Linked DNA regions of Homo sapiens: region 1 is reported to be linked to region 2. The links are microRNA targets in miRTarBase. Many come from high-throughput screens and were not tested one by one. Region 2 holds a microRNA gene; the other region holds the end of a gene's coding sequence.

Region 1 (5,000 bases), not on the chromosome of region 2:
TGATCTGCCCACCCCAGCCTCCCAAAGTGCTGGGATTACAGGTGTGAGCCACTGTGCCTGGCCAATTACGAGAATATTTAATTACTAAACATAGTAGAATACACATTTAAGCAAAACCCTCATTTGGACCACTTAAGAGTGAAGGCTTACAAAAACTAGTAAAAGTCTAAAGGAAATAGGTTTTGCATCTTTCCAATACGTAATAAAATTGCAAAGTCAATGTTTATAATGTATTAAGTAGAAGCTCAAATGCTTTTAATAGGGAAAATTTAATTTGGACATACTAGTAAAGTATCTAAAACATTTATTAAATTATTTTTGTCAAGTATCATCTTTACTCATAGATACTACCAAAGAGCAACCTAGACAGTAAAATTAGTTCCCGTATCTGAGGACTCCAAATTAATAAATTTTAATATATTAATATTAAACAGAGCATGCATTTTTAGAAGGATGCAAATTTCTACTCCTTCATATCCAGAGATTAAATTCAGCAAAGCTAATGGACTTGTTAACACTTACACAGAACATGGAAATAGGTCCTGACTACATACATACTCCACATAACTACTGAAAACTTAAAACCCAGTTGCTTATTTCATGGCAACCTGGTAGAATAATTATGTAATAAACGACAATAAGAAAAAGCCACTTATCATATAGTCTAGTCTTTATTGAAAGACTTACTTCAACTGTTGTTTACAGCTTTGGCTTAAGTTGGCCATTTTAGCCTCTCACTGCCAGCAGACATAAAAATCAAGTGGGAATGGCACGGGGGTTGGGAGTGAAAATACTAGTAGAGAAATTATGAGAACAAAGAATATGGCAGTCAGTCAGAAACACATCACCAAAATAAATCTCAAAATAATTATGAAATAAAAAACATTTCCTTGCATGCCCAAAAAGTCTCTGCTGATGTTTTTGATGAACGGGGTGGGGAGCAACGATTCTTAGGCTTAAGTTGGATCAAGATAGCATTGGGTCATGTTATAAAATCATCTGTTAGCTCAACAGCCATACTTTTAATTAATTCATTTATTTTTTGAGATGGAGTCTCGCTCTGTCGCCCAGGCTGGAGTGCAGTGGCGCATTTTCAGCTCACTGCAACCTCCACCTCCCAGGTTCAATTCTCCTGCCTCAGCCTCCCAAGTCACTGGGACTACCAGCGCCCACCAGCACGCCCAGCTAATTTTTTTGTTATTTTTAGTAGAGATGGGGTTTCACCATGTTGGCTGGGCTGGTCTCAAACTCCTGACCTTAGGTGATCCACTACCCGCCTCAGCTTCCCAAAGTGCTGGGATTACAGGTGTGAACCACCATGCCCGGCAACAGTTGCACTTTTTTTTTTTTTGAGACGGAGTCTTGCTCTATTTCCCAGGGTGGAGTGCAATAGCACAATCTTGGCTCAGGGCAACCTCCGCCTCCTGGGTTCAAGAGATTCTCCTGCCTCAGCCTCCTGAGTAGTTGAGACTACAGGCACGGGCCACCACGCTTAATTTTGTATTTTTAGTGGAGACAGGGTTTCATCATGTTGGTCAGGCTGAGCCACTGCGCCCGGCCCAGTTGTAGTTTTTAAATGGTACATTTCATTTGGATAAGTAGCTTTGTATTTTAAAAACCACTTAATGGCCAGGTGCAGTGGCTCACGCCTGTAATCCCAGCACCTTGGGAGGCCGAGGTGGGTGGATCACGAGGTCAGGAGATTGAGACCATCCTGGCCAACATGGTGAAACCCTGTCTCTACTAAAAATACAAAAATTTACTAGACATGGTGGCATGCATCTGTAGTCCAGCTACTCGGGAGGCTGAGGCAGGAGAATAGCTTGAACCCAGGAGGCGGAGGTTGCGGTGAGCCGAGATTGCACCACTGCACTCCAGCCTGGCGACAGGGCAAGACTCCGTCTCAAAAAAAAAAAAAAAAAAAAGCCAGACACCGTGGCTCACGCTTGTAGTCCCAGCACTTTGGGAGACTGAGGCGGGCGGATCACGAGGTGAGGAGATCGAGACCATCCTGGCCAACATGGTGAAACCCCCATCTCTACTAAAAACACAAAAAAATTAGCTGGGCATGGTGGCACGTGACTGTAATCCCAGCTACTCAGGAGGCTGAGGCAGGAGAATCGCTTGAATCTGGGAAGCAGAGGTTGCGGTGAGCCAAGTTCTCATCACTACATGTACTCCAGCCTGGCGACAGAGCAAGACTCCATCTAAAAAAAAAAAAAAAAAAAAACCACTTAATATGAAATAACTTCCATTAACTGATCATGAAATTTTGCCCTCTTTCAGATTAAGATGAAGGACACTTCAGTCACATGTTTACTGTGGCAATATAACTAGTCTGGATAATTTTATTAAATCATAGAATATACAGTCAGGAAACACTACAGCTATATTTAGCTGTTAGTTATCTCAATAAGCTACTTAATTTACTGGCAGACCAAAACAGGCATACTAAGCATTTTTATCAATTAAAAAAAGTCTTCAGTTGTTCAAGTTTCACATATACTCATAAAATTTTTAACTCGGGGGCACAGTTAACATAATTTATTGAGTGTTCTCCCTATAAAATATAAATTAACTTTTCCAAAAACATTCCTCAAAGATACTATAAACAAAAGAAATAAGGGTATATTTTATAACAGAAGAGTGTAATAGATGACCATTATGGTAAAACTAAGGTGCCATAAAAAATTTGGCCCAGCTATGAATTTCAGACCCTATGAATTTTTATGTTGAATACATTTGGCTATATTGCTAAGTGGGAAAAGGAGGAAAGTAATACCAAAATTATTGTGACCACCAATTTATAAAATCATTATTTTAAAGCTAATCGTAAAACTTCAAATGTTTAGAAAACAGTAATTTGTGGGTACTAATCGCATCTTACTATGTAACTGTAAAAGGCTATTTTCTCTTTGGTGCCCAGGCCAGCATTTTGAATACATTGCCAAAACATTTGCACTCCCTAGCTCTGACAATTCAAATACATAGGATTTTATCTATTTTACATTCCTGTTTGATAGAAATTTGAGGCAAATTTTACCCACACAGCCTGAAAAATACCTTGAAAGCAAACCTCGGTCTTCTGCATCTTCCAATTGATTCCTTTACAAACTCTGCACACATACAACTTAAGCCTCTGCTCAGGCTTATTATACCATGCACACTGCCCACAAGGAAAAAAATTAATTGAAAATAAAAGCCACAACTCTGTGTACTATTTAAACTGAATATCCAATTATAAATTGGTACATTGAAGTGTCTAAATAAGATGTTTTTAGCAATCTTGTTAAAAAAATTCTTGGGCAAAATATATCTTAATTTTTAAAAACACCCCAAGATTTTTAAAAAACACTTGTACTATACAACTTATAGTAACCTTGAAATTGGTTTACAAGGTTTTAATCAAGGTATTTACATACCAAGTAATGTAAAGCAAAAAAAAAAAAAAAAAAAAACAAAAACAAAAAACTAATTCCCAATGACATTTTAGAACATACTAATGCATCAAAGATTGTATGAAATTAAAATTAAGGCTTTTTCTGCACAATTTGTGTAATTTTAATTTTACATAGTAGCCAACCTTGGAAATGTCAGTCTTAACATTCTGATCAATCCACTGCATTCAATGCAGCGGAGTGTGTTAAGTGTTACTTCAAATAATTACATTGCTGCTACTTCTATGTTGAAGCATGCTTTTTAAACACTGTAGTTATTGAATATTTACAATATGTATCATTTAAACTTCATGTAAAAGCACAAGTATGACTGTCTGACTTCAATACAAACACCATACTTGGATTTCCCCCCAAAATGAAATGTAAAATACTACAATTTTAATAATCGACACTTTTGGAAGTTTTAAAAATATGTCTTAACGTGGACCACCAACATTTGCTCAAGTAACTCAAACAATGCTGTTCCTTTTTTAGGGTGCAAAACTTCAGTCTGGCTTCAGTTTCTTTAGGCATAGAGAAAGAAAATATTTCCTCCAAAGCGACTCCAAAATCACGCATTTCTTCTGAATATCACACTTTTTCTCTGCTGACTTCAAATGTGGTCCACCTCAGGGAAGGGGAGGGGAGTATCAGGATTCAGGATGAACTTATATGTGATTCCCAGGTTTTCACGATCCTCCCTTTTTTGCTCTTTTAAAAACACAGTGAGTTAAAATACTGAACAGCAAGATAAAAATGGAATAGTATCTAAGAATCAAAATGTATTAGCCATTTTTCCTATTATATCAAAATTTGTAGTCAGAATTGTCTTTATTGACTTTATTTTAGTTTTTGTACATAAAGAAAAATCATGTTCATATCCATCATGAACAAAAACTTAAAAAGGCAGAACTAGAAGACACGTGTCCTTCACCAAAGCAAATCTGTGCTAAAGGTTCCAAACATTTCAATTTTTAAAATAAATATTTTCATTTTCCGATGTCTACTTTCATGTCTTCAGAGTGTCACAGGAAATCGAAGCCTATCATGAATTACAATTTTTTTTTAGAGTCCCGGCTCACTGTGTTTGGTAACTTGCCATACCATATCCGGCTTGGTTAGGAGGAGGTATTACAGGGGGAGGAGCTTGTCCTTGGGGAGGCTGAGCACCAAATCCACCCATCCAAGCAGCAGAAGGTGATTGACTTGGAAGAAAAAGAAAAAATCTTCAGCAAACACAAGAAAAAAAAAATCACATATGTATTTACACAAAAATCAAGCAGAGCCTAATCACAGAATAGAAAACCAGAAATCAACACACCTACAACAAATAGAAAGATCAAAGAAATAAATGATATATGTGTAGAATACATATTCCAGTATTAGTCTTTGATATTTTTAAGATAACCACAACTTAACACACTGATGTCTGAGGAGTATCTGCAAACTAATTTTTTAAAAATTGTGAATGATTCAACACATCATCTATTACATAAGAAATTTTAAAAACAAGTTCATGTTGGAAACAGTCTCAAAGGAAGAAATCTGAAAATAAAGCTATGG
Region 2 (5,177 bases):
CTGGGTAACAGAGTAAGACCCTGTCTCTAAAAAAAAAAAAAAAAAAAAAAGGAATTATAATAATAATTTTTTTTTTGAGATGAAGTCTCACTTTGTCGCCCAGGCTGGTGTGCAGTGGCACGATCTCGGCTCACTGCAACCTCCACCTCCCGGGTTCAAGCGATTCTCCTGCCTCAGCCTCCCAAGTAGCTGGGACTACAGGCACCCATCACCATGCCCAGCTAATTTTTGTATTTTTAGTAGAGACGGGGTTTCACTATGTTGGCTAGGCTGGTCTCGAACTCCTGACCTCGTGATCTGCACGCCTTGGCCTCCCAAAGTGCTAGGATTACAGGCATGAGCCTCTGTGCCTGGCCATAAAAAATTTTAAAACACACAAAAGAATCCTTCTTAATCCCGCCACCCCAAATCTCTGTATTATGTTAACATCTTGGTTTGTATCCTAGATGGCTGGATGAATAGATGAATGGATGTTTTTTAGTTTTTAGACAAAGGTGGAATCATGACTCTGTTCTTTTGCTTGCTTTTTAAAAGAAACTAGATGAAATACACTCTAAACATCTTCCCATGTCAACAGAATATCATTTTTTTTCTTATCTATTCTTCACCATTCATCCTAAACCCACATTGTTGGCTTCAAGTAAACTCACCCTCAAATAGTAATTATCCCTTCTATTTGCCTATCTTTTTATAGCTTTGATTCCCACAAGGCTGTGAGATAGGCAGGAAAAGGATTATCTCTACTTAACAGATAATTTTAAGAGTTAACAGTTTGTTCAGGGTCATATAGGGTCAAGTAGGAGAGCCAAGATCCAGAGCCCATCTGTTCAATTCCAAAGCCCATGGGCTTTCCATTACATCCCATTGCCTCATACTATGTATCTGATTGTGTGGCACGGACTTAAAAGTTAAGCTAACCTGGGTACCAATCCTGGCTCCAACAATTCCCAGCTATACAACCTTCAAGCAAGTTAGCTAAGTCCCCTAAGCTCAAGTTTCTTGTAGGGTGTGGCGAGAATGACTTGATAAAATTCACATCAAATACTTAACATGGTAGCTGGTGGTTACTGCTGAGGGCTGACTGACCCATTCATGTCCAGTGAGTAAGTCTGACAGGGCTGTGCTCTGGCTTGAAAGAGGTCCTGTACGCTCTGCCAAACCCTAAATTCCTACCCATATTCCCATCCCAATTACAAGCAGAATGAGGACCTGCCAGTGCTACTTTAGACATAGAACAGAAACCTTCCCACTTAGCCTGGTGCATCACGGCAGGAAGCTACAAGACAAAGCCAGGCCCTGGGGCTCCCAGTTAGAGGAAGTGAGAAAAAGACGTGTACCCTGGGAAGAAAAAGGGATGCATTTCCGTTCCCATCCAAGCCTCACTTCCTTAGAAAGACATTTCAGGTAGATTAACACACCATCTCTGTGCTGTTTTCCATATGCCATTTGGGGGGGCATTTTGTGGTTATTTTTAAGAGACTGCACTTGTAACAAAACAAAAAGTAAGCTTTCTGTTTTCCTTTCTGGGTCATGAGCTGGTCTCAACCCTCCAAATTCAACTGTCACTGGAAGTCTTTGTGGAGTTGGAATTTCTATTGGGAGTGGCTGTGAAGGTAGGAAGAACATCAGCAAATGTGGTGATATGGTTTGAATGTGTTCTCCCAAAGTTCTTGTGCTGGACACTTAATCCCCAATGCAACAGTGTTGAGAGGTGGGAACTTTTGGAGGTGACTGGATTGATGTTATTATTGTGGGAGTGAATTTATTTAAAAAGTAAGTTACCCTCCCTCATGTGTTCTCTTGCCATGTGATGCCTTCTATCAGGTTACTATGCAGCAAGAAGGTCCTCCCCAGATACAGCCCCTGATCTTGTACTTCCCACCCTCCAGAACCATGAGCCAAATAAATTTCTTTTCATTGTAAGTTATCCACTTTTTTTTTTTTGAGACAGGGTCTCACTCTGTCACTCGAGCAGGAGGATTGCTTAAGCCTGGGAGGTCGAGTCTGCAGCAAGCTGTGACCACGACACTGCAGCCTTGACCTCCCAGGCTCAAGCAATCCTGCCTTAGTCACCCAAGTAGCTGGGACTACAGGCATGTGCCACCCCACCTGGTTGATTTTTGTAATTTTTGTGTGTGTAAAGACAGATTTTGCCATGTTCCCCAAGCTGGTCTCAAACTCCTGGGCTCAAGCTCAAGTGATCTGCCCATGTTAACCTCCCAAAGTGCTGGAATTACAGGCATGAGCCACTGCACCAGGCCCCAGTTTCAGGTATTCTTATAGCAGCACAAAACAGACTAAGACAGACACACAATGTCATAAAAATGAAGGAGAAGAGGGGCTTAAAAAGAAAGAAGGCACTCTGAACTTTTCCTACAGATAAACTCACTTATATAGGAAACTAGGAAGTTATTCAAAGGGTGATGTAGAGTTAGATAAGCAGATAAGAAACAATCTCCAAGACAGAGGGGAATAATGCAAGATACAGAAATTGTACACAGCATGCTAACATCCTTGTGTGTGATGTAGACTATTTCTGGGCCTGAACACATCTTCTCTAGAAGGTCACACAAGAACCTGGTTGCAATGGGTGTCTCTGGGAAGGAGAACCAGGAAGCCTAGCTAGGAGCCATGGGTGAGGGGAATCTTAATTTCACTTTGTAGCTTCTGATGCTGCTTGAATATTTTATTTTTTCACATTTTTTTAAAGGAGAAAGGATTAGAGCACCTAATAATATGGTGAGGTCAAGAAAGATGAGACAAGCTTATGAGAAGAGGCAGTTTTCAGGTCATTGATGACTCAATGAGAAAAATATCAATAGGATGGCGGGAGCAGAAGCCAGATTGCACCAAACTGAGGAAACAATAAATTGTCATCAAGTGGAAATAGCAGGAACTGGCAACTCTTTCAAAAGTGTGTTTGTATGCAAAGTAAGGTAGGGTAGTAATCATAGCAGTAGTAAGAGTAGTAGTAAGGAGGATTCCCAGGTTTGAGGTAGGGGATTTTTAACATGAAAAAGACATAGCAGGTTTATGCACAAAGGAGAAGGCCAGGATAGAGTCAGAAAGGACAGCTGCTGTTTTTGCCCAGCCAGCAGGCATTGTCTTTTCTTCTAGTGACAGTGGCTTTATTTTTCTTTTTTTCTTTTTTTTTTTTTTTGAGACGGAGTCTCGCTCTTTTGCCCAGGCTGGACTGCAGTGGCGCTATCTCAGCTCACTGCAAGCTCCGCCTCCTGGGTTCACGCCATTCTCCTGCCTCAGCCTCCCGAGTAGCTGGGACTACAGGTGCCCGCCACCGCGCCCAGCTAATTTTTTGTATTTTTTAGTGGAGATGGGGTTTCACCGTGTTAGCCAAGATGGTCTCGATCTCCTGACCTCATGATCCACCCGCCTCAGCCTCCCAAAGTGCTGGGATTATAGGCGTGAGCCACCACACCCGGCCATGACAGTGGCTTTTTTTTCTTAAAGGAGATATTCCTTCTCTTCTTTCAAAATGTCTGATTTAGATAGGACATTCCTTCTCTTTTTTCAAAATGTCTGGATTAGATCCAGCTCTCTGGCTAAGAGGGGCTGGTGACCCAGGCCCGGTCAATCAGCACATTCCATCCCCCTGGTGCAGTGAGCAATTCCCTTAGAGATGGGCATATGACCCAATAATCTTCCAAAAAGATTGAGTCCTAGGCTGCTGGGATTTTATAAAAAGGAAGCCCTTTTCTTTGGTAGAAGTTGCAGAGATAATGGGACATAAATTGGGAGTTGCTATGTGCCCAAGAAAGCCTTCTGAGAATGAAGAATGAAGTCAACACAGTGGGGAAAGTAATCCTAAGGGATATAGATAAATGTTTCCCTGCTGGCATTGTTTGGGACCAGATGTAGATGATCCATCTACATCTGAATACTAACTATCATTATTTTTTGCTTAAAAGTCAGTTTAAATCAGATTCCTATTTGAAACCATAGGAGTTTTGTTGATACAGAGAGAAGCTGTAGACAGACTAAACAGGGGAGATAAGCATGAAGGATCAAGAGGCTGGAGTCCAGAGCAGGAGTGAGGGTAAGTCTCACATGAGTTGGGGGAGGGAAAACATATTTGCTAAGACAGAGATGGAAGCTGGGCAAGGAGGTCAAGATGACTATGGAGGTGCCGGTAGGTGGTAAGAAGCTGACGGCTACCAACCAGTGGCACCCATGGGCCTCAATCTTCCTCACGATTTAGGGCAGGGATCCCCAATCCCTGGGCCATGGACCAGTATCAAAATAACAATAATAATAATAAATAATAATATAATAGTACATGACTCAAAGTCATGTATCTGGTAGGTTCTATGGTTGACTTGCCCCGCCAAAGTTCATGTGTTAGAAACTGAATCTCCAATGCAACAGTGTTGAGAGGTGGCACCTCATGAGAACTTAACAACATTATCTTGGTAGTGGGATCCTAATAAAAGGGATGAGTTTGGCTCCGTATCTTTCCCCTGCATGTGCACACACATGTATGCATATGCATATATATGCACACACATGCACGCATACTCTCTCTTGCCCTTCACCTTCTGCCATGGGATGACACAGCAAGAAGTCTCTCACCAGATGCAAGCCCCTCACCCTTGGACTTCCCAGCCTCCAGAACTGTAAGAAATAAATTTCTTTTCTTTATAAATTATCTAGTCTGTGGTATTCAGTCATAGCAACACAACATGGACTAAGACAGAAACTGATTTAGGAACTTCACCTGGCTCAGGAACCTGACAATTCCAACCATCTAAAGGGAGCCTGGTTTGATCTGAAGTTTAAATGGGTTCTCCATGGGTGTGTAGATAGGTGGAGAGAGATAAACAGACTCCAAGCTGTGTGTCCTAAATGGCTCTTGGCTATTTGTTTGTCAGTATATAAATGTAGGTTGATATTTTTATTAAGATCTCTGCAAACTCCACACAGTGGATACCCCAAAAGAACAACCAGAAATGAGCAGGGAAACCTCTACTCCTTAATGAGCCTGTCTCGGCTGCCTCATTTCAATGCTGCCATGCCCTTCTTTCAGAGGTTAGTCAATGCATGCCGTCTTTGTCAGCCTCAAAATCAAAGCCCTAAGGAACAAATAAGATTTGCATCTTTTAAAATCCTGACAACGAATTATAAAAGCTGTGAAGATGCTACTTATTTGTTGCAATATTTTA

What was found. Region 2 holds the annotated microRNA hsa-miR-1273h-5p (CUGGGAGGUCAAGGCUGCAGU, at 2,028-2,048, opposite strand). A microRNA usually pairs through its seed, bases 2 to 8, with sites in the 3' UTR of a target mRNA and lowers its output. Matches are read on the target gene's strand: a 7mer-m8 pairs with bases 2 to 8, a 7mer-A1 pairs with bases 2 to 7 and ends in A, and an 8mer does both.
Region 1: miRTarBase lists TIAL1 as a target of hsa-miR-1273h-5p. The part of its 3' UTR that is shown has no 7-base or 8-base seed match.

The regions. Positions count from the first base shown.
Region 1 is chr10:119,571,150-119,576,149 of GRCh38, forward strand. It overlaps TIAL1 (TIA1 cytotoxic granule associated RNA binding protein like 1), which reads right to left. Exons shown (of 12, transcript NM_003252.4): 12 at 2,316-4,642. The coding sequence ends at 4,516. Among named protein-coding and RNA genes, the nearest start is that of TIAL1, 23 kb to the right of the region's middle.
Region 2 is chr16:24,200,019-24,205,195 of GRCh38, reverse strand. MIR1273H (microRNA 1273h) reads right to left here and starts at 2,080; the gene lies at 1,965-2,080. All of the region lies in intron 16 of PRKCB (protein kinase C beta), which reads right to left.